Homo sapiens: one gene and its partners. The protein of the gene in region 1 interacts with the protein of each later gene in a pairwise test. Each region holds a gene or a part of one and is shown on either strand. Other genes may lie near its edges.

Evidence for each region.
Region 2: the proteins of GOLGA2 (region 1) and ZGPAT interact in binary tests that used the Homo sapiens proteins (3 or more experiments, as listed by UniProt).
Region 3: the proteins of GOLGA2 (region 1) and DLGAP5 interact in binary tests that used the Homo sapiens proteins (3 or more experiments, as listed by UniProt).
Region 4: the proteins of GOLGA2 (region 1) and ZNF587 interact in binary tests that used the Homo sapiens proteins (3 or more experiments, as listed by UniProt).
Region 5: the proteins of GOLGA2 (region 1) and MORN3 interact in binary tests that used the Homo sapiens proteins (3 or more experiments, as listed by UniProt).
Region 6: the proteins of GOLGA2 (region 1) and TSGA10IP interact in binary tests that used the Homo sapiens proteins (3 or more experiments, as listed by UniProt).
Region 7: the proteins of GOLGA2 (region 1) and MFAP1 interact in binary tests that used the Homo sapiens proteins (3 or more experiments, as listed by UniProt).

The regions. Positions count from the first base shown.
Region 1 is NC_000009.12:128,255,329-128,259,007, reverse strand, and holds the end of GOLGA2 (golgin subfamily A member 2), read left to right. Parts: coding exon 1-1; intron 2-437; coding exon 438-553; intron 554-809; coding exon 810-1,028; intron 1,029-1,115; coding exon 1,116-1,218; intron 1,219-1,300; coding exon 1,301-1,407; intron 1,408-1,482; coding exon 1,483-1,639; intron 1,640-1,726; coding exon 1,727-1,941; 3' UTR 1,942-3,179; downstream 3,180-3,679. UniProt on the Homo sapiens protein: Peripheral membrane component of the cis-Golgi stack that acts as a membrane skeleton that maintains the structure of the Golgi apparatus, and as a vesicle thether that facilitates vesicle fusion to the Golgi membrane.
Region 2 is NC_000020.11:63,732,039-63,734,340, forward strand, and holds part of ZGPAT (zinc finger CCCH-type with G patch domain-containing protein), read left to right. Parts: intron 1-1,180; coding exon 1,181-1,314; intron 1,315-1,548; coding exon 1,549-1,701; intron 1,702-2,302. UniProt on the Homo sapiens protein: Transcription repressor that specifically binds the 5'-GGAG[GA]A[GA]A-3' consensus sequence. Represses transcription by recruiting the chromatin multiprotein complex NuRD to target promoters.
Region 3 is NC_000014.9:55,150,611-55,153,585, reverse strand, and holds part of DLGAP5 (disks large-associated protein 5), read left to right. Parts: intron 1-938; coding exon 939-996; intron 997-1,644; coding exon 1,645-1,891; intron 1,892-2,737; coding exon 2,738-2,787; intron 2,788-2,975. UniProt on the Homo sapiens protein: Potential cell cycle regulator that may play a role in carcinogenesis of cancer cells. Mitotic phosphoprotein regulated by the ubiquitin-proteasome pathway.
Region 4 is NC_000019.10:57,859,859-57,862,737, forward strand, and holds part of ZNF587 (zinc finger protein 587), read left to right. Parts: coding exon 1-282; 3' UTR 283-2,879. UniProt on the Homo sapiens protein: May be involved in transcriptional regulation.
Region 5 is NC_000012.12:121,648,242-121,650,448, forward strand, and holds the end of MORN3 (MORN repeat-containing protein 3), read right to left. Parts: 3' UTR 501-2,207; downstream 1-500. UniProt on the Homo sapiens protein: Assembles a suppression complex (suppresome) by tethering SIRT1 and MDM2 to regulate composite modifications of p53/TP53.
Region 6 is NC_000011.10:65,957,973-65,960,466, forward strand, and holds the end of TSGA10IP (testis-specific protein 10-interacting protein), read left to right. Parts: intron 1-910; coding exon 911-1,010; intron 1,011-1,178; coding exon of another isoform or gene 1,179-1,217; coding exon 1,218-1,342; intron 1,343-1,844; coding exon 1,845-1,968; 3' UTR 1,969-1,994; downstream 1,995-2,494.
Region 7 is NC_000015.10:43,811,191-43,814,690, forward strand, and holds part of MFAP1 (microfibrillar-associated protein 1), read right to left. Parts: intron 3,499-3,500; coding exon 3,311-3,498; intron 2,168-3,310; coding exon 2,059-2,167; intron 1,958-2,058; coding exon 1,797-1,957; intron 1-1,796. UniProt on the Homo sapiens protein: Involved in pre-mRNA splicing as a component of the spliceosome.

The DNA of each region.
Region 1 (3,679 bases):
GGTACGGGAACCTGCTCACAGGAAGAGGAGAGAGCCCCAGGAAGAAGGGGGGACTGTTAGCAGCGTAGAATTGAGGAGTTGGAAGAGACCTTTAGAACAGCTGGTCATTATGCCAACTGGGTGTCCACACTAAGTTCGGCATCAATATGGTGACTTCCTGGGAGCAGGGCACTACCAGCTTACCTAAGGATGGGTGAACTGGCCCAGGTCAGAAATGAAGCAGGTCAGAACTCCCATGCTGATCGGTAGTGGGACTGCACCTGGGCAGCATAGCGAGCCCTTGGCTCTTAAAAAAGAATAAAATAAAAATAAAGAACAGATGCTTATTTCCCTCTGGGGAGGGGCTGGCCCAGGGTTACACAGTGAGGGTGGGGGCAGAGGTGGGCCCACTGTACCCTTGTTGGGTTGTCTGATGACCCCTCTGGCCACCCCCATAGGAGATGGACTGGACCGGGAGGAGGAGGAGGATGAGGAGGAGGAGGAGGAGGAGGCGGTGGCAGTACCTCAGCCCATGCCAAGCATCCCGGAGGACCTGGAGAGCCGGGAAGCCATGGTGAGGCTGACTCCCCCTCCCCAACCTTTGCTGCCTCCCTCTGTGGTCCCTCCCAGACCCCCTTCTGCTCTTGGTTTCCCGGCCTTCTGATTTCTTCGGACCCTCACCCCTTTCCTGGGAGCCAGTGGTGAGACACCATTTCACTTGGGACCAACAAGTGCACCCTCTGAGGCCCCAAGGGAAGGGCTGCTCTCTACCTCCCTGCCCTGTTCATCCTATATATCCTCCTACAAGAATGCACCCCTCTTGCCTGCAGGTGGCATTTTTCAACTCAGCTGTAGCCAGTGCCGAGGAGGAGCAGGCAAGGCTACGTGGGCAGCTGAAGGAGCAAAGGGTGCGCTGCCGGCGCCTGGCTCACCTGCTGGCCTCGGCCCAGAAGGAGCCTGAGGCAGCAGCCCCAGCCCCAGGGACCGGGGGTGATTCTGTGTGTGGGGAGACCCACCGGGCCCTGCAGGGGGCCATGGAGAAGCTGCAGGTGAATGAGTCTCTCCTGGCATGGGTCAAGAAGGGTGGGGGCGGGGCAGGTCGCTGCCGATATATGACTCCATTATTTTGGTTCCAGAGCCGCTTTATGGAGCTCATGCAGGAGAAGGCAGACCTGAAGGAGAGGGTAGAGGAACTGGAACATCGCTGCATCCAGCTTTCTGGAGAGACAGACACCATTGGTGAGTGGGAGGCCAGGGCACGGCAGGAGGAGCTGCACAGCGGTCGGAGGGAACCCAGCATCTGAGCCCTGTCCTCCCGCAGGAGAGTACATTGCACTGTACCAGAGCCAGAGGGCAGTGCTGAAGGAGCGGCACCGGGAGAAGGAGGAGTACATCAGCAGGCTGGCCCAAGACAAGGAGGAGATGAAGGTAGGGTGTGGAACATCTCTGGGGGTGGAGGTGGGCACGGGCATGGGCATGGCAGCTTAGCACCCCTCCCTCCAGGTGAAGCTGCTGGAGCTGCAGGAGCTGGTCTTACGGCTTGTGGGCGACCGCAACGAGTGGCATGGCAGATTCCTGGCAGCTGCCCAGAACCCTGCTGATGAGCCCACTTCAGGGGCCCCAGCCCCCCAGGAACTTGGGGCTGCCAACCAGCAGGGTGGTGAGTAGAGCCCTCGGGAGGGGTGGGCAGGCAGGAGTAAGGGAGGGCTCGCGTGGCACTCAGAGCCCTGCCTCTCTCTCTCCAAAGATCTTTGCGAGGTGAGCCTCGCCGGCAGTGTGGAGCCTGCCCAAGGAGAGGCCAGGGAGGGTTCTCCCCGTGACAACCCCACTGCACAGCAGATCATGCAGCTGCTTCGTGAGATGCAGAACCCCCGGGAGCGCCCAGGCTTGGGCAGCAACCCCTGCATTCCTTTTTTTTACCGGGCTGACGAGAATGATGAGGTGAAGATCACTGTCATCTAAAAGCCGGCTACTGTCAGCAAAGCCTGAAGAAGTGGGGCTGGATACCCTGCCCCCACCATATCCCTACCATCCCTTCTCAGTCAACCCTTTACCCTTACAGTAGCAAGCATAGACCCCTGTCTAACGGGGGTAGACAGGTGCAGATGAGGTGAAGATCACTGTCATCTAAAAGCTGGCCACTAAATTAAAAAAAAATTAAAAGTTATGGGATTAAAAAAAGTTATGGGATAAAAAAGGTTATGGGTAACTTATGGTATAAAAGTTATGAAAAAAGGCCAGGTGCAGTGGCTCACGCCTGTAATCCCAGCACTTTTGGGAGGCTGAGGTTGGGAGTTCAAGACCAGCCTGGTCAACATGGTGAAACTGTGTCTCTACTAAAAATACAAAAATTAGCCAGGCATGGTGGCACGTGCCTGTAATCCCAGCTACTCGGGAGGCTGAGGCAGGAGAATCGCTTGAACCTGGGAGGTGGAGGTTGCAGTGGGCTGAGATCACGCCATTGCACTCCAGCCTGGGCGACAGAGTGAGACTCTGTCTCAAAAAAAAAAAAAATTATGAAAAAAGTTATGGGATTAAAGAAAGTCAGGATAAAAATTTTAAAAAGCAGGCCACTGTCAGCAAAGCCTGGAGAAGTGGGGCCGGAGGCTCCGCCCCCATCATGTGCCTGCCACCCCTTCCCAGTCATCCCTTTACTCTTACAGTAGCAAATAAGACCCCTGTCTAATGGGGGGAGACAAATGTGTAGACCCTTAGCCACCTTGGCCAGGGCTGACTCCTTAAATTTCTGGATGATGATGATTGTTATTTAATAGCCAGAGGCTCATATAATTGGCCTCTTTGGAAGAGGCCTCATGGCCTCCTTACTCTCACCAAAGCAATTTTTCCCTCAGGGGGGCTCCCATCTTCTTACACAGAGAGGCAGCTGAGGCAGGACAGTGGGGCTAACTGTAGACCAGGCGAGGGCACGGGCTGCTGGGGTGGCCCTGCTTCCCCAGTGTACATATTGTATCTGTGTAACATTTTGTATATTCCAGGGGTAGGGCCGCCCCCTGTATCATACCTAGCAGAGGTTGGAGCTGGCACATGGGGAGGAGGTTCTAATAATTATTTGGGGCTGGGAAACTTATTTATTGATAGCATAGGACAGAGGAAGGAGGCGGGGATGGGGTCGTGGCGCCCTGGTGATGCGACTCCTGTTTATTTTGCTTTTTATTTCGGAATAAATGGATTTAGCCATACTGCTCTGCCTGATGTGTTCCTGTTTCTCTCACTGGGTCCTGGAGTTTGTGCCACTGAACAGGGAGCCCCAGAGTGTCTGAGCATGTGCAGCTGGGCTGTTGGGACCTTCCAGGCTTGTTACCTGTATGCTGCCTGGTGACATCTTGGGGATTACACGGGGACTACCATGGTACCTATGGGGACAGTTTGGCCCCGATGGCCAACAGGCTCAGAAGCCTGATCTAGCGGTGGCCAGGAAGACAGGATGCCAGCACCCAAGGGCACTGACTTCCATCCAGCCCAGGTGTCTTCCATTCTGTCCCCCTGCCTCCCTCGCCTGCCTGAGCCTGGTGGCCTGTTCTGTCTGTCCCTCCAGAATGCCAGCCGCCCTGCCGGCGCCCTCCAGGCTGAGTTAATGGCCCTGCCCCCTAGTGGCCAGAGCCCGCTTCACAGGATGAGAGCCCCCTAAGCTCCAGGGGCTTTCCAGGAAAAATGTCCCTTGGAAAAGATGTGGTCTTTT
Region 2 (2,302 bases), on another chromosome or scaffold:
TGCAAGTGTGAGTGTGTATATGCATGTGTGTATATGCATGCCATGTGTGTGCATGTATGTGTATATGCATATATGAGTGAGTGCACGTGACAGTCTACACGTGAGGGTGCATGTGTGTGCGCGTGTGGGTGACTGCATATGTGTGTGCATGTGTGGGTGCGGGTGCATCTGTGTGTGCATGTTTGGGTGCGGGTGCATGTGTGCGTGCACGTGTGTGTGGATGAGAGGTCGCATGTGTGTGGGTGAGGGCGTGTGTGTGTGCATGTGTGTGGGTGAGGGGGCATGTGTGTGCACGTGTGTGGGTGAGGTGTGTGTGTGCATGTGTCAGGGTGTGTGTGCGCGCATGTGTGTGGGTGAGGGCCTGTGTGTGCGTGTGTGTGGGTGAGAGATGTGTGCGCATGTGTGTAGGTAAGGGTGCTTGTGTGCGCATGTGTGTGGGTGAGGGCGTATGTGTGTGGGTGAGGGCACGTGTGCGCGCGTGTGGGTGAGATGGCGTGTGCGTATATCCATGTATGACTGCATCTGTATTTGCATGAGTTCATGTGTGAGTGCATGTTTATACGCGTGTCAGGGTCTCTGTGTATGTGTATGACGTGTGAGTACATGTGTTAATGTGTGTGTACATGTGTATATGCCTGTGTGCATGTGTGTATGCATGTGTATACATGTGTACTTGTGTATGTGTATATGTGTATGTCTGTATATGTGTGTGTATGCCTGTGTACGTATGTATATGCGTGTGTGTATGCATGTGAGTGCATGTTTATGCGTGTGTATGTGTACTTGTGTGTGCCTGTGTGAGTGCATGTGTGTGTACATGTGTATATGCGCGTGTGCGTATGCGTGTATGTGTACGTGTGTATATGCATGTGTGTGTATATGCCTGCATGTATATGCACAAGTGTGTATATATGTGTATGTGTGAGTGTATGTGTGCATGTGTATCTGTATGTGCGTGTGTATATGTGCATGTGTGTATGTGTGCGTGAGTGTGTGCATGTGTGTGTGTATGTGTGCGTGTGTATGTGTGTGCGTGAGTGTGTGAGAGTGTGTATGTATACGCACGCGTGTGTGTCTGTCTCCCTCAGGACAGTGCCCAGGCGGATGGGTCAGTGCTCCTGGGTTGGTTTGCCCCTGGTGGCCCATGTCTGAGCCCTGCCCCTTACGGCTCTGTCTGCAGGTTCTCCCATGGGCAGGTGGTCTCTCTGGATGAGCTGCGCCCCTTCCAGGACCCAGACCTGAGCTCCCTGCAGGCCGGCTCTGCGTGTCTGGCCAAGCACCAGGATGGCCTCTGGCACGCAGCACGCATCACCGGTGAGGCTGGCCGTGGGGGCCTCCCGGGAACACCCTCCCAGGCCCCACGTGTGTTGTCACTGTGTGGCTGCTCCCTGCTTCCTTTGGGTTGAGTGTCGGGACTCTGGCTCTGGGCCCGAAATGAGCACACCTACCCTCAGCCTCTGCCCTGCCTTGCTCCTCATGTCCAGGGTGGTTCCCTTCAGTGGCACCTGCTGTCAAGGATTCTGACCTGCAGCTTGTCTCTGCCCCCAGATGTGGACAACGGCTACTACACAGTCAAGTTTGACTCGCTGCTGCTGAGGGAGGCCGTGGTGGAGGGGGACGGCATCCTGCCCCCACTGCGCACAGAGGCCACAGAGTCCGACTCAGACAGCGACGGTACGGGTGACTCCAGCTATGCCAGAGGTATGGCAGCAGCTGCGGAGCCCAGGAGCCAGGAAGGTGGGGTCACCCTGAGAGGCTCCTGGCCGGTGAGGGCACCAACCATCTAACCAAACTATTGGAGAGTGTGTGACTGCGGCGAGGGTGCCACCTGTGCCTGAGGAGGCCGTGTGGGTAGGGGTAGATCCGTGGCGGCCTTTATCTTCAAGGAGTGTGGGTGCAACAGCTACAGTCTCATTGATGGGAGGCCATGGTCGTGGCTGTGGCCATGGGAGAGGAGGGGCCTGGAGTTGCCGAGGAAGTCACAGAAAATGACCAACTGATGGGGCCTGGAGTGCAGGAGGGGCAGCTCCTCTGCATGGCTTCTCAGACTTGGGACCTGGGTGCCTGGGATCCTGGCAGACAGAGGTTGTGTCCAGACAGCCAGCATGGAAGTTTCGGGAATGGGAACTGGTGGGCAGTGTCCAGCTCTCCAGAGGGGTGTGTGTATGCGTGTGCGTGTGTGTGTATATATGTGGGAGGTCACCTGACCCAAGCATGGCGGGCTGAGTCCAGGAGGGGTCTGCATGTTGGAGGTGTACCCAGGGATCAGTGATGGTGGTTTCTGAAGCCCCATGTCCCTGGT
Region 3 (2,975 bases), on another chromosome or scaffold:
AAAAGTAACTTGAAAGAAGTGGAGATAAATTTTTTTTTTTTTTTTGAGACGGAGTGTCGCTCTGTTGCTGAGGCTGGAGTGCAGTGGCACTACCTCGGCTCACTGCAACCTCCGCCTCCCAGGTTCAAGTGATTCTCCTGCCTCAGCCTCCCAAGTAGCTGGGACTACAGGCGCATGTCACCACGCCCAGCTAATTTTTTGTATTTTTAGTAGAGACGGGGTTTCACCATGTTAGCCAGGATGGTCTCAATCTCCTGACCTCGTGATCCACCCGCCGCTGCCTCCCAAGTGCTGGGATTACAGGCGTGAGCCAAGGCGCCTGGCCAAAACAGATATTTCTAATAAGATACAAGCTAGTAACTTCAGGATTAGAATACCTTGTATTCTAACTCAATTATTGTCTAGCTGGAGTTAGCTACATTTACTTGTTAACAAGCAGCAGACTTAAGAACATTGTAACTCCTGTTCCGCTTTTTGAACTTTCGGATAAAATTATAGAAATAGTATGATTGAAGTCAAGTTTCTTAGCAGGTACCTGGATTAACAAGTAACGAGTAAATGTAGCTAACTCCAGCTAGACAATAATTGAATTGTTGCTTCTGTCTCCAGAAGTCACCTTCTTTTTGACTTTTCTTTAATATATAGCTCTGGATTTGGCTGAGATTCAGAGTATTGCTGGTAGAGCCACCTGACCCTGACTGACCACCATGGTAACAGACTTGTGAGCTTTCTGGGGAAGAATGCATTTAGTTTGTAAGGCCATCCTGCAGTAGCTATAGTCCAAAACTAATCTATCTGGATCACGCCTGATCTTGCACCAGGCTCCATGTTTGATCCATTCCCTAAACTAATTGCCATCATTAAAGGAAAGACTCAAAATACAAGTGAAACAATAACAATATGTTTATGAGTGTAATGCTGCTTTTTTTCTTCTTTAGGAGCAGCATAGAAGATGCTCAGTGTCCTGGATTACCAGATTTAATTGAAGAAAATCATGTAAGTACAATTCCAGTGTGGTTAGATAGCCCAGTATGTCATATGTTTATATCATTATAGAAAGTAACTTTGTAAAGCATCCCCAGAATTTCCGTTGGAAATCTAAATCAGTCATGTAGAATTGTAGTTCTTGTTTCAATGACATTTGGGTTGTTTAAAACCATAGTGTCATTTTGTATTCTTCAACTCATATCAGAATGAATATGGAACCAGTGAACTAGAGCAGAAATCAGCAAACTTTGGCCCCTATTTTTACAAATCATATTTTATTGTAATAGCCACACATTTGTTTATGTATTCTATCTGGCTGCTTTTGCAATACAGTGGTAGAGTTGAGTACTTATGACAGAGACCCTGTGACTCACAAACCTAAAATATTTACTATTTGATCTTTTACAGAAAATGTTTGCCAGTCCCTGAGCTAGAGTATAGGTACTTGCTGAGAAACTTGCCTTCAATCATACTATTTCTATAATATTATCTGAACTAATTGTTGAAGAAGCAGGATAGTAGGATTTATAATGTTCTTAAGACTGTGTCCGGGATGTCATCCTTCTGTTTTTCTTGTATTTAATAGCAACAAGACTTTTAAAATTTGTTCCAAGTAATTAAATTGATAATTAAATATAATGCCATTTTTACTTCCAGGTTGTAAATAAGACAGACTTGAAGGTGGATTGTTTATCCAGTGAGAGAATGAGTTTGCCTCTTCTTGCTGGTGGAGTAGCAGATGATATTAATACTAACAAAAAAGAAGGAATTTCAGATGTTGTGGAAGGAATGGAACTGAATTCTTCAATTACATCACAGGATGTTTTGATGAGTAGCCCTGAAAAAAATACAGCTTCACAAAATAGCATCTTAGAAGAAGGGGAAACTAAAATTTCTCAGTCAGGTGAGATATTTAAAATATATTTAAACGAGCCTTTATTAAAGAAATGAACTTGGATTAAGGTATAAATTATCCTATAAGGTCCATTTTACATTAGATCTAACTATTGAGGATCCTTCATTGTTAGTGAAGACCCTGAATTAGAACAATTCCCTCAAGATTTTTTTTTTTTTTGAGATGGAGTCTCACTCTGTTGCCCAGGCTGGAGTGTAGTCGTGTGATCTCAGCTCACTGCAACCTCCACCTCCCAGGTTGAGGCGATTCTCCTACACATGTACCACCGCGCCTAGCTAATTTTTTTATTTTTAGTAGAGACAGAGTTTCACCACATTGGCCAGCCTGGGCTTTTTTTTTAGTTGTCCTTTTCAACACATATCCCCAAGTCTTTCTTCAAAATATCCTATTTTTCTTCCCTACTGCCTAGTTCTACCTATATTGTTGTGATGGTTCTGCAATAGGAAATGGCTCCTATATTTTTGTTATAATGTGTGCCAGTTTTACCTGCCATTTTCATCAGTTAGTCTGTAGCTGGTCTAACTGGGGCCTATGGTAAAACAAAAGGTTTTAACCTCGGCCAGACATTTAATGTCCTCCAGCTGTTCTTCATCAGCATTTTCTGGGTACCTTTAATGTTACAAGCATGAGATTTGTTTACAGAAGTCTGCTTTTATACCAAAGTTAAGGATAAGAATTTAACTACTTTCAAAAAACATTATAGCATAGGGGTCTATATTTTTGTCTTAGCATTTGATATGTGGAACTTTTCATATTTTTCATGGCTTTGTCCATTTCTAACAGCCCTCGAATGTGAGAATATTCTTTAAAAAGTTTTTTTTTGTTGTTTTTCAGAACTATTTGATAATAAAAGTCTCACTACTGAATGCCACCTTCTTGATTCAGTAAGTTTTCCAACTTGACAAGTCCCTTTATATTCTAGATTTGTTTTATAAAATGAATATTGCTTTTCTATTTGTGTACAAGGCTTAAAATGTATATCTTGTCATTGTTTTGCTTACTCACTCTTCATTTTTCACAGAATGAAGAAAAATTTGGTGTTTATATACTTTAAAATATAGTATGTTTTAAT
Region 4 (2,879 bases), on another chromosome or scaffold:
CAGAGGATTCACACTGGAGAAAGGCCGTATGAATGCAGTGAATGTGGGAAATCATTTCTTTCCAGCTCTGCGCTTCATGTTCATAAAAGAGTTCATTCTGGACAAAAGCCTTATAAGTGCAGTGAATGTGGAAAATCCTTTTCTGAATGTTCCAGTCTCATTAAACACAGGAGAATTCACACTGGAGAAAGGCCTTATGAATGCACCAAATGTGGAAAAACATTTCAGCGAAGCTCTACCCTCCTTCATCATCAGAGTTCACACAGGAGAAAGGCCTTATGAGTGCAGTGAATATGGGAAATCGTTTGCTGAAGCATCCCGTCTCGTTAAACACAGGAGAGTTCATACTGGAGAAAGGCCTTATGAGTGCTGTCAATGTGGAAAACATCAGAATGTCTGCTGTCCTCGGTCTTAAGCGACTTCGTGTTGAGATGGAGTCTTGTTCTGTCACCCAGGCTGGAGTGCAGTGGTGCAGTCTTGGCTCGCTGCAACTTGGGCCTCCTGGGTTCATGCAATCCTCCTACCTCAGCCTCCTGAGTAGCTGGGATTATGAGTACACACCACCACGCCCAGCTAATTTTTGTGTTTTTAGTGGAGATGGGGTTTTACCATGTTGGCCAGGCTGGTCTCAAACTCCTGACCTCAAGTGATCCACCCACCTTGACTCCCAAAGTGCTGAAATTACAGGCATGAGCCTCTGCACCTGGCCTTCATTCTTTTCGTATTGCTTAGAATATGACATGCTGAACCAGGCATGGTGGCTCATGCTTGTAAACCTGATGCTTTGGGAGGACAAGGTGGTTCATTGGAGGCCAGGAGTTAGAGATCAGCCTGGGCAACATAGCCAGACCTCCTCTCTACAAAAAGAAAAAAGAATGACATGCTTCTTGTTTTTGTCTGTTATAAATGAAACTGCTATATTTGAATGCAGTTGTTCATGTAGGTATGTTTCACTATGGTAATATGGTGGTGTGCAGTGCCTGAGTCACGTGATAGATTAAAGTACAACTCTTTTTTGAGACAGAGTCTCACTCTGTCACCCAGGCGGGAGTTAGGTGGCATGATTTCGGCTCACTGCAACCTCTGCCTCCCAAGTTCAACTGATTCTTCTGCCTCAGCCTCCCGAGTAGCAGGGATTACCGGTGTGCACCACCATGCCTGGATAACTTTTTTTTTTATTTCTATTAGCAATGGGGTTTCACCATGCTGGCCAGGCTTGTTATGAACTGACCTCAAGTGATCTGCCTGCCTCAGCTTCTCAGGTGTGACCTACTGTGCTTGGCCTAATGTACAACTTTTTAAGCAATGCCAAACTATGACTTAAGAATGAAATTATTGCTCATTTGTATATCTATCTACCATCAGTGTCCAAGAATTTCTGTTCTATCTTACCAAGAGGGAGTATGGTTAGTATTTGAAATTGTTTATTATTTTAATAAGTGGTTATAACTTTTGAGTCAGTGGTTTATGTTTTGCATTTTTTTTGTTTTGAGACAAAGTCTCGCTCTGTCTCCCAGGCTAGAGTACCGTGGCACAATCTCAGCTCATTGCAACCTCTGCTTCCTGGGCTCAAGCACTCTGCCCACCTCAGCCTCCAGAGTAGCTGGAAATACAGGTATGCACCACCACAACTGGATAACTTTTGTATTTTCTGTAGAGAGGGTTTTACCTTTTTGCCCAGTCTGATCGCGAACTCCTGGGCTCAGGCGATCCACTTGCCTAGGCTCCAAAAGTGCTTGGTCTACAGGGGTGAGGCACCCTGCCTGGCCTCACCTGTAGGCTTGTTTTTTAAAATGAATTTTATCTATTTCCCATTTCATTAATATATTTAAAAATAATGAAATAACAAAGACGTATGTTGGACTTCATTCATTCTTCAGTGATGTCACTTTGCTGCAAGGAATATTTGGTTTTCTTTTTTTTTTTTTTTTCCAGATGGAGTCTAGCTCTGTCTCCTAAGCTACAGTGAAGTGGCATGATCTCGGCCCACTGCAACCTCCACCTCCTGTGTTCAAGCGATTCTGCCTCAGCCTCCTGAGTAGCTGGGACTACAGGCATGTGCCATTATACCTGGCTAATTTTATTTATTTATTTTAGTAGAGATGGGGTTTCACCATGTTACCCAGGCTGCTCTCTACCTTCTGAGCTCAAGTGATCCACCTGCCTCGGCCTCCCAAAGTGCTGGGATTACAGGTGTCAGCCACTGTACCTGGCTGAATACTTGGTTTTCAGTACCACAAGAACTATGAGCTGGTTATCCACTTCATGTGGAATCATAAGCGTCCCAAAGTGACAATACATATAGATTGCCAGGCAGTGAAACAGTTAAGATGCCACCATAGCTTTCTTTTCAACATCTTTCTAAGATTACCTTACTATTTCTTTTGTTCCAAGTTTGTACTTCCTCACAGTTCTCACATATGGAAAGGATACACACTTTGTAGAAACAAGAACTTTATGTTATCCAAGTTCTAGGATAGCCATGAGCTCCAATTATCTCAGAGCTCTGAGTCCTCTACTCAATACCCATTGAGATTTATGTGTTCTGAGGCTTTTGTCTTCTAGCTACTTACTTCATTCTCCATGGGTAACGTCATTCATCCACATTAACTAATTTCCTCACTCCAAGCTCTTTTCTAGAGATAATCTCCAGTCCCTGTGCAGAAACTGTCATTGCACTTTCTGCTGAAATGGCAGTTTCTTCTCAGCAAGGTGAGATTATGGAATCCAGAATCTTTTTTCAGGGGTCACATGCCCATTTCCCCACTTGCATGAATGTCGACACTGCAGCCACAGTTTTGGCCGTAAATGTGAATTTGGCAAGTAACCACTGTTCCCAGGGAAATGTCCCAATCAGAAGAAGATTATCTGGGACACTG
Region 5 (2,207 bases), on another chromosome or scaffold:
GGGTTCAAGGGATTCTCCTGCCTCGGCCTCCCGAGTAGCTGGGACTACAGGCATGAGCCACCACGCCCGGCTAATTTTTGTATTTTTAGCAGAGATGGGCTTTCACCACACTGGCCAGGCTGGTTTCCAACTCCTGACCTCAGGTGATCCACCTGCCTCAGCCTCCCAAAGTGCTGGGATTACAGGCGTGAGCTACCGCACCCGGCCGTCCTGGACATCTTTTACGTATTCCCCTAGGACAGCCACCTCCCTACTTCTGTAGGGATGCAAGATCCAGCTGGAATTATTTCTGGGCTAGGATCCTGTTGTCTTGGGTTCTTGTTCCTAAACTGGCCGGGACTCGACTCATCAGCCAGGCTTGTCAAATGCAGGTTTCGAAGCCCTTGGAGGATTCTGATTTAAGTAGGTCTGGGTGTGTCTTTGGAATCTATTTCTAACAAGCACCCCAGGTGCTCTCACACCCAGGCAACTTAGACAAACACTCCTAGTTAGGAGCACAGTCTCTTTAACTTCATTTTTATTTACATTTTGAATACATAATACATTCACATGGTTCCAAACACAACACTGAAAAGTTGTTCTTCAGCTCCTGTTCCCAAGTCCCCAATTCTCCCCAGAGACAACCATCTTTGCCAGTTTATTGTGTTTAAATCTAGCGACATTTTGTACATAAACAAGCACACCCTCTTCCAACATTTTTTTTTTTTTTGAGATGGAGTCTCGCTCTGTTGCCCAGGCTGGAGAGCAGCGGCACGATCTCGGCTCGGCGTGATCTTGGCTCACCACTACCTCCGCCTCCTGGGTTCAAGTGATTCTCCTGCCTCAGCCTCCTGAGTAGCTGGGATTATAGATGCACTCCACCACACCCAGCTAATTTTTGTATTTTTAGTAGAGACAGGGTTTCACCATGTTGGTCAGGCTGGTCTCGAACTCCTGACCTCTTGATCCGCCTGCCTCGGCCTCTCAAAGTGCTAGGATTACAGGCATGAGCCACCATGCCCTGCCCCCACTTTTTCTTTAAAAATGGTAACCCTTTACACTCTTCTGCACATTAAGAACAGCTAGACCTAAGTTTAAGCACAGTACTAGCTTGATGACTTGTGATCCTCCCTGAACCTGTTTCCTCCTCTAAAATGGCAGTAATAGCAAGACACCTCACTGTTGTCGGGGAGTGCCAGGAGAGAATGCTTGCTGCGAAGCTGTCAGCACACGGCCTGGAATAGAGTGAGTGCTCCATATCTGGAAGTTATGATTAATTCTGCATCCTAGGGTGGCCAGGCGGGGCTTCCCAGTGCCAGAGGTACAGACTGAGAACCACACCCTTGGTGAGGCCACCCTACTTATGACTTAGGGGGCAGAGAGAACCTCAGTAAGGTCAGTGGTGTTTATTGAGGCTTTACTATGTGCTATGTGCCTCTTGCTGAGGTCTTAGCTAGAATCGTGGTATTTCAGGGTTTCTCAACATTTTTTTTTTTTTTTTTTTTGGAGATGGTGTCTCGCTCTGTCGCCCAGGCTGGAGTGCAATGGCGCAATCTCGGCTCACTGCAACCTCTGCCACCCAGGTTCAAGCAATTCTCCTGCCTCAGCCTCCCAAGTAGTTGGGATTACAGGTGCTGAATTCTTTTTTTTTTTTTTTTTTGTAGCATGGTGATATTGCACTATGCTTAACCGCATCCCTGGTCTCTACTCACTCAATGCCAGTAGCCTTCTTCCTGCCTGTTGTGACATCAAAAATGTCATACATTGCCAAATGTCCCCAAGAAAGAGTGGGGCTGAGGGAGGACAAAATCCTACCCACAGTTTAAAACCACCGCCTTATCTCATCCTCACAGTAACTAACCACAGTAACCCCAGGTGGTAAGTACTGTTAATGCCCCATATTGCAAGTGAGGAGACCAACAGAACAGAGTTTGGGTGACATTCCTGAGAACACACAGCTCCGAGATTCACGCCCAGGCACTGTGACTCCAGAGCTCACCTGCCCATTATGCAAGAACATCTGATCTTGGCTGGGAGCAGTGGCTCACACCTGTAATCCCAGCACTTTGGGAGTCCAAGGCGGGCAGATCACGAGGTCAGGAGATCGAGACCGTCCTGGCCAACATGGTGAAACCCTGTCTCTACTAAAAATACAAAAAATTAGCCTTGGTGGCAGGTGCCTGTAATCCCAGCTACTTGGGAGGCTGAGGCAGGATAATCGCTTGAAC
Region 6 (2,494 bases), on another chromosome or scaffold:
AGACAGGGTCTTGCTCTGTTGCCCAGGCTGGAGTGCAGTGGCACAATCTCAGCTCACTGTAGCCTAGACCTCCGAGGCTCAAGCGATCCTCCCACCTTGGCCTCCCAACTACCCAGGACTACAGGTGCATACCACCATGTCTGGCTAATTTTTGTAGAGACAGGATTTCACCATGTTGCCCAGTCTGGTCTCAAACTCTTGGGCTCAAGTGATCCACCCTCCTTGGCCTTCCAAAGTGCTGGGATTACAGGTGCGAGCCACCACGCCTGGCCAAATTGGGTTTTTATAAATGAAAATTGTGCTTCCCCAGTGGAACCCTGATCTCTCAGGGGTGTGTTTTTTAAATTTGAAACATATTTTTTTTTAGTTTCTCTGTCCCATTTTCCAAGCTGTCTGCTTACAAGAACCACAGAGAATGCTGGCAAGCTTGTCCGATCCCTACTATAGCACAGTGAAATAAACTGAGCCCAGAGCCAAGAGCCCAGAGAGAGGCCTCACCCAAAGTCACACAACCAACAACCACAGCTCCCCCTCAAGGGAAAGAGGATGGGGAGGGGAAGCTATGTAAGCACGTGTCTGGAAGCTCAGAAGCCAGCACTGGCCCCTTTCCCATGGGGCTGGCACAGGAGGATGGGCAAGCCCCAGCTGCACAGGGCTCGGCCCCTCACTTCCCAGCTGCACAACTTTGAACAAGTCCCTCAACCCTCCCGATCCATCCGTAAATTGGGTGAATAATTTCCACCTTGGCTGACTTCACAAGGAATCCAGGCAAGAATGGGAATGAAATAGCTTTGTAAAGGTGAGGGTGAGGACATGAATATCAAGTCCTTAGTGAAGATAAGCGGGCTCAGGAATGGAGATCAACAGTTGTGTCCATGGTTAGCTGCACAAAGGCCTGTCTCCCCTGCAGGCGCCAGGAGCGACAGCGCTTTGCTGAGTACCAGGCGGAGCTGCAAGGCATCCAGCACAGGGTGCAGGCCCGGCCCTTCCTGTTCCAGCAGGCTATGCAGGTGAGGCTGGCACCTGGGCAAGCACATAGCTGCCCCCTGTGAAGAGCTGGCTGAGTGGGTAGGGAAGCAGGATGCGAGTAGGTCCCTGCAGATAGGATCCCAGGGCTGCTGCCCTCTGGAATCCCTGGGACCCCCTCAGTAACCCGATCCCCACCTTGCCCTCGGCAGCCCTGGTGCAGAGCAGGAAGCCGTCTTCTCTCTCCTCAGGCCAATGCCCGGCTCACCGTCACTCGGCGCTTCTCCCAGGTGCTGTCAGCACTGGGGCTGGATGAGGAGCAGCTGCTGTCTGAGGCAGGAAAGGTGGACAGAGAGGGCACCCCCAGGAAACCCAGGTGAGTCTCCCCGTCAGGTCAAGAACTGACTCTGCCATGCTGCTGCGGGAAGGGGCGCCCACACCAGCACTCTGGGCTCTGGAGGGCCTCCCCCAGGACAGGCAGAGAGCCCAGAGGAAGGCAAGGCCAGGGTTGTCATTCCTACTTCTCAATGAGGAAACTAAGGACCTGAGGGGAAGGGCCTTCTTTAAGGACGCAGGAGCGAACAAGCAGCAGAACCAGTCTGGGACTCTGCAACCATCTGAGCGGCCACACACCAAGTCCCTCATTAGGGGCTGGCACCACCACGCTGGTCACCCCATGCCTTAGAATAACCTGGTACAGAGCAGCGATTATGAAGCCCACTTGACAATAAGGAAAGTGAGACTCGAGAAGAGTCACTTTGCCCAGGATCACACAGCAAGCCGGCACTGAAGCAGGGTTTGAAGCCACATTGTCAGTGGTTTCCTTGGGCATGGGGGTGGGAGCTGCAGAGTCAGGGGCCTCTATCTGTGTCTTGAAGGAGCCACAGGTCAATGGGGGTGAGAATGGAGCACTCTCCTCAGAGGCCCCCAAGGACAGAACCCACCGGCAGCCAGCCTGACAGGCACTACAACCCCAGCCTGGACCCGGAGTGCAGTCCCTGAGATAAAATTAAAGGCTTTATGGCAAACACAGTATGAGATTTCTGGTGGTGGGGGTGGTGGAAGCTACGGGTTGGAAGTTGGAGGTGGCAGGTGGGTGGGCAGCAGGCTTAGCTCTGTCCCCGCACCCCCTCCCCACCAGGAGCTTTGGCTCTTTTGGTTCCCCCCACCCAGTACACACAGCCCCTTCTCTGCTCCTGAGGAGTGGGGACATCTCAAAGAGCAAGAGCTGTGACTTCTCCACCCCATCTCCAATGTATATGTTGGGTCCTATAAATTCAAGCATGAATAAGATGAAATGACTCCTGCCTCTGAGGACGCCCAGTGAGTGGGAGAGGGGGTGGATCCTTAAAGGGGCGCATACAACATAGCCTAACACATGCTGAGTTGTGCCACACAGGGAGCCACAGACTGAGCAACCACTGGGTGAGGGGAGGGGTTTCAGGAGAGATTGGGATTGTGTGCACTGCGCTTTTTTTTTTTTTTTTTAAGACAGAGTCTCGCTCTGTCACCAGGCCGGAGTGCAATG
Region 7 (3,500 bases), on another chromosome or scaffold:
GATCACCTGAAGTCAGGAGTTCAAGGCCAGCCTGGCCGACATGGTGAAAACCCACCTCTACTAAAAATACAAAAATTAGCTGGGCGTGGTGGCATATACCTGTAGTCCCAGCTACGCAGGAGGCTGAGGCAGGAGAACCGCTTGACTCCCAGGGGGTGGAGGTTGTAGTGAGCCAAGATTGCGCCACTGCACTCCAGCCTGGGCGACAGAGTGAGACTGTGTCTCAAAAAAAAAAAAAAAACCAAAAACAAAAAATTACAGGCTGAGTATGGAGTTATCTACTGTGTGTAGCTCATACTCAGGCAAGTTTTCTTTTTTTCTTTTTTTTTTTTTTCCAGATAGAGTCTCACTCTGTCACCTAGGCTGGAGTGCAGTGGCACGATCTCAGCTCACCGCAACCTCTGCCTGCCGGGTTCAAGCGATTCTCTTGCCTCCGCCTCCCGAGTAGCTGGGAATAACAGGCACACACCACCACACCCAGCTAATTTTTGTATTTTAGTAGAGATAGGTTTTCACCATGTTGGCCAAGCTGGTCTTGAACTCTCAGCCTGAAGTGATTCGCCTGCCTCAGCCACCCAAAGTGCTGGGATTATGGGTGTGAGCCATCACGCCCAGCCTAGAGTTATCTATTGATGGTTTCCTTTGTAATCTGGGATTACCCTCTCATACCTAGTAATTTACAGGAATGAGTGATGCAGCTCAGAAATGATTCTGCTGGGGCCGGGCATGATGGCTCATGCCATAATCCCAGCACTTTGGGAGGCCGAGTTGGGTGGACAACCTGAGATCATGAGTTCGAGACCAGCCTGACCAACATGGTGAAACCCTGTCTGTACTAAAAATACGAAAATTAGCCAGGCATGGTGGCGCATGCCTGTAATCCCAGCTACTTGGGAGGCTGAGGCAGGAAAATCACTTGAACCTGGCAGGCGGAGGCTGCAGTGAGCTGAGATTGTGACACTTCACTGCAGCCTGGGTGAAAAGTGAAACTTCATGTCAAAAAAAAAAAAAAAAGATTCTGCTCTAACACAGTGTAGATTATTTAAGTGCCACAAATTCTTCCCCTCACAGTATGTATGCCCCTTTTCAAAAAGTATGACTTTGCTGCTCCTCCTCTGCAGAGGTGGAGTCTGTTTCTCCACCTGCTTAAAGCTAGGTTGGCCTTGTGACTTGCTTTGACCAGTATGTGGCAAGATCGATGTATGAGTTCTGGAACCGACATGTCAGAAGACCTTGCCCTCTTAGAATGGTGCCCTGAGACTGCTATGTAAGGAAGCCAGTCTAATCCAGTGAAGGATAAGTGAGGTATCCTAACTGATAGCCACCACCTACTACTAACATGTGAGTGAAGCCCTTTTAAGTTTCCAGCCCAGTCAACCTTCCAGCTGGATGCAACTACATAAGTAAGCCCAGGTGAAATCAGTAGAGGAACTGTTCAGCCAACCTCCAAAGTTGTGAAAAGTAATAAATTATAGTTTCAAGTCACTCAATTGTGGGTTGGGTTGTACACAAGAAGAGATAACTACTAACAGTTACTAATTTTTGTGTCTACTAGGAAACTAAAGGGAGCACTGGCTGGCACTCTATTATGGACACACATCGACAAAGTGTTTTTCTCTTCCCTGATTTCACTGTAGCAAGTGAAACTCATATTCCAATTATAGGAAACTCACAAAGCAACAAGAACTCTGAAGGTGGCTAGAATGGAACTCACAGTAGGTAATGAGTCTCAGAGCTATCCTGCTAGAAACCTGTTCCATTAGCAGCATTAACTCTAGGCTCATCTTTTTACTCACGCTTCTCGATCTTCTCTGTCCCTCTTGATTCTTTTTAGCTCTCGAACTTTCCATGCCTCATATTCCTCCTCATCATTTTCATCATCAGTATTGAGTGCATCCAATGCAGCCAGGGATCGCTTGTTCTCTTCCAGCTCTTTTTTGGTTTCCTCTTCGACAATCTGGATAGGGAGAACAATTCAGCTTGGACTTCCTTACTCTCCTCAGACAAACCTGATTACACTATTTCTTGTACTCATTCCTTGCAACCACTCCCCAGTACCTTGAGTGTGTACTTGCGCCTTTCCTCAGCCATGCGTTTTGCTTCCTGCTCCAGCTCCTTCTGTTTCAATGCTTCGGCTTCACGTTCTTGAACTGTCACTCGGTCCTTCCTGCATCACAGAGATCCTGTTAATTGCCCAAAGTCCTTAGAGTGGAGTGCTTTGTTCCCCTAGACCTAGTCCCATCCAAATCAGACAAAAACCAAACAATCTTTGGCTCTATTATTTTCAAAGAGCAAAAAACGCTGAGTCATCCCAGGTCTTTTTTTTTTTTTTTTTTTTTGAGACGGAGTCTCACTTGTCGCCTAGGCTGCAGTGCAGTGGTGTGATCTTGGCTCACTGCAACCTCCGCCTCCTGGGTTCAAGCAATTCTCTGCCTCAGCCTCCTGAGTAGCTGGGATTACAAGAGTCTGCCACCACACCTGATTAATTTCTTTGTATTTTTAGTAGAGATGGGGTTTCACCATCTTGGCTAGGCTGGTCTTGAACTCCTGACCTCCTGATCCACCTACCTCAGCCTCCCAAAGTGCTGGGATTACAGTCGTGAGCCACCGTGCCCAGCCATCATCCCAGGTCTTTAGAGGACTAAAATCATGTTCATCTTTGAGAACTGCCTAGACAGCAAAGAACCTGCTGGCCTCTAAGCAGTAGGATTTCTAGCCATCAGGAAAGGAATAGGAATTTGCTCGTTGAGTTTAATTTTGTGCTTAAAAATATATGGCCTTGGCTTGGTGCCGTGGCTCATGCCTGTAATCCTAGCACTTTGGGAGGCTGAGGAGGACGGATCACCTGAGGTTGGGAGTTCGAGACCAGCCTGACCAACATGGAAAAACCCCCTCTCTACTAAAAATACAAAATTAGCCAGGCGTGGTGGCGCATGCCTGTAATCCCAGCTACTCGGGAGACAGAGGCAGAACTGCTTGAAACCAGGAGGTGGAGGTTGTGGTGAGCCGAGATCATGCCATTGCACTCCAGCCTGGGCAACAAGAGCGAAACTCTGTCTCAAACAAACAAAAAAAGGCCTTGGACAGATATATGCTCTATTACTGAAAAAAGAGATGTGAAAACAAACTCAGGTTCTCTGCTAACGCCAAGATATTCCTCAGCAGCTAGTCTGCCAAGGGTAGAGCACTAGCAAAAGCACTTTCACTCAGCGTTTAGATTTCAGAATAGCAAGACAGAAAACAGACTTTTGTCTCCAGGCCTGGAAAGTGGTAATTAAGTGGATTCAGATCTGGCTTGTGAGATACTTACTTTCGAATGAAGACTGGCTTAAGGCGAGGCTCCATCTCATCTTCACTGTCTGTGTACTCTTCATACTCAGACTCTGATTCTGACTCCTCTCCAGAACGACCCTCATCTTCCACTTCCATGACTTCCATCTCTTCATTTTTTCTCTCCTGTGCTCGCTGACGCATCATGCCACGCCGCCGCTCTATTTCCT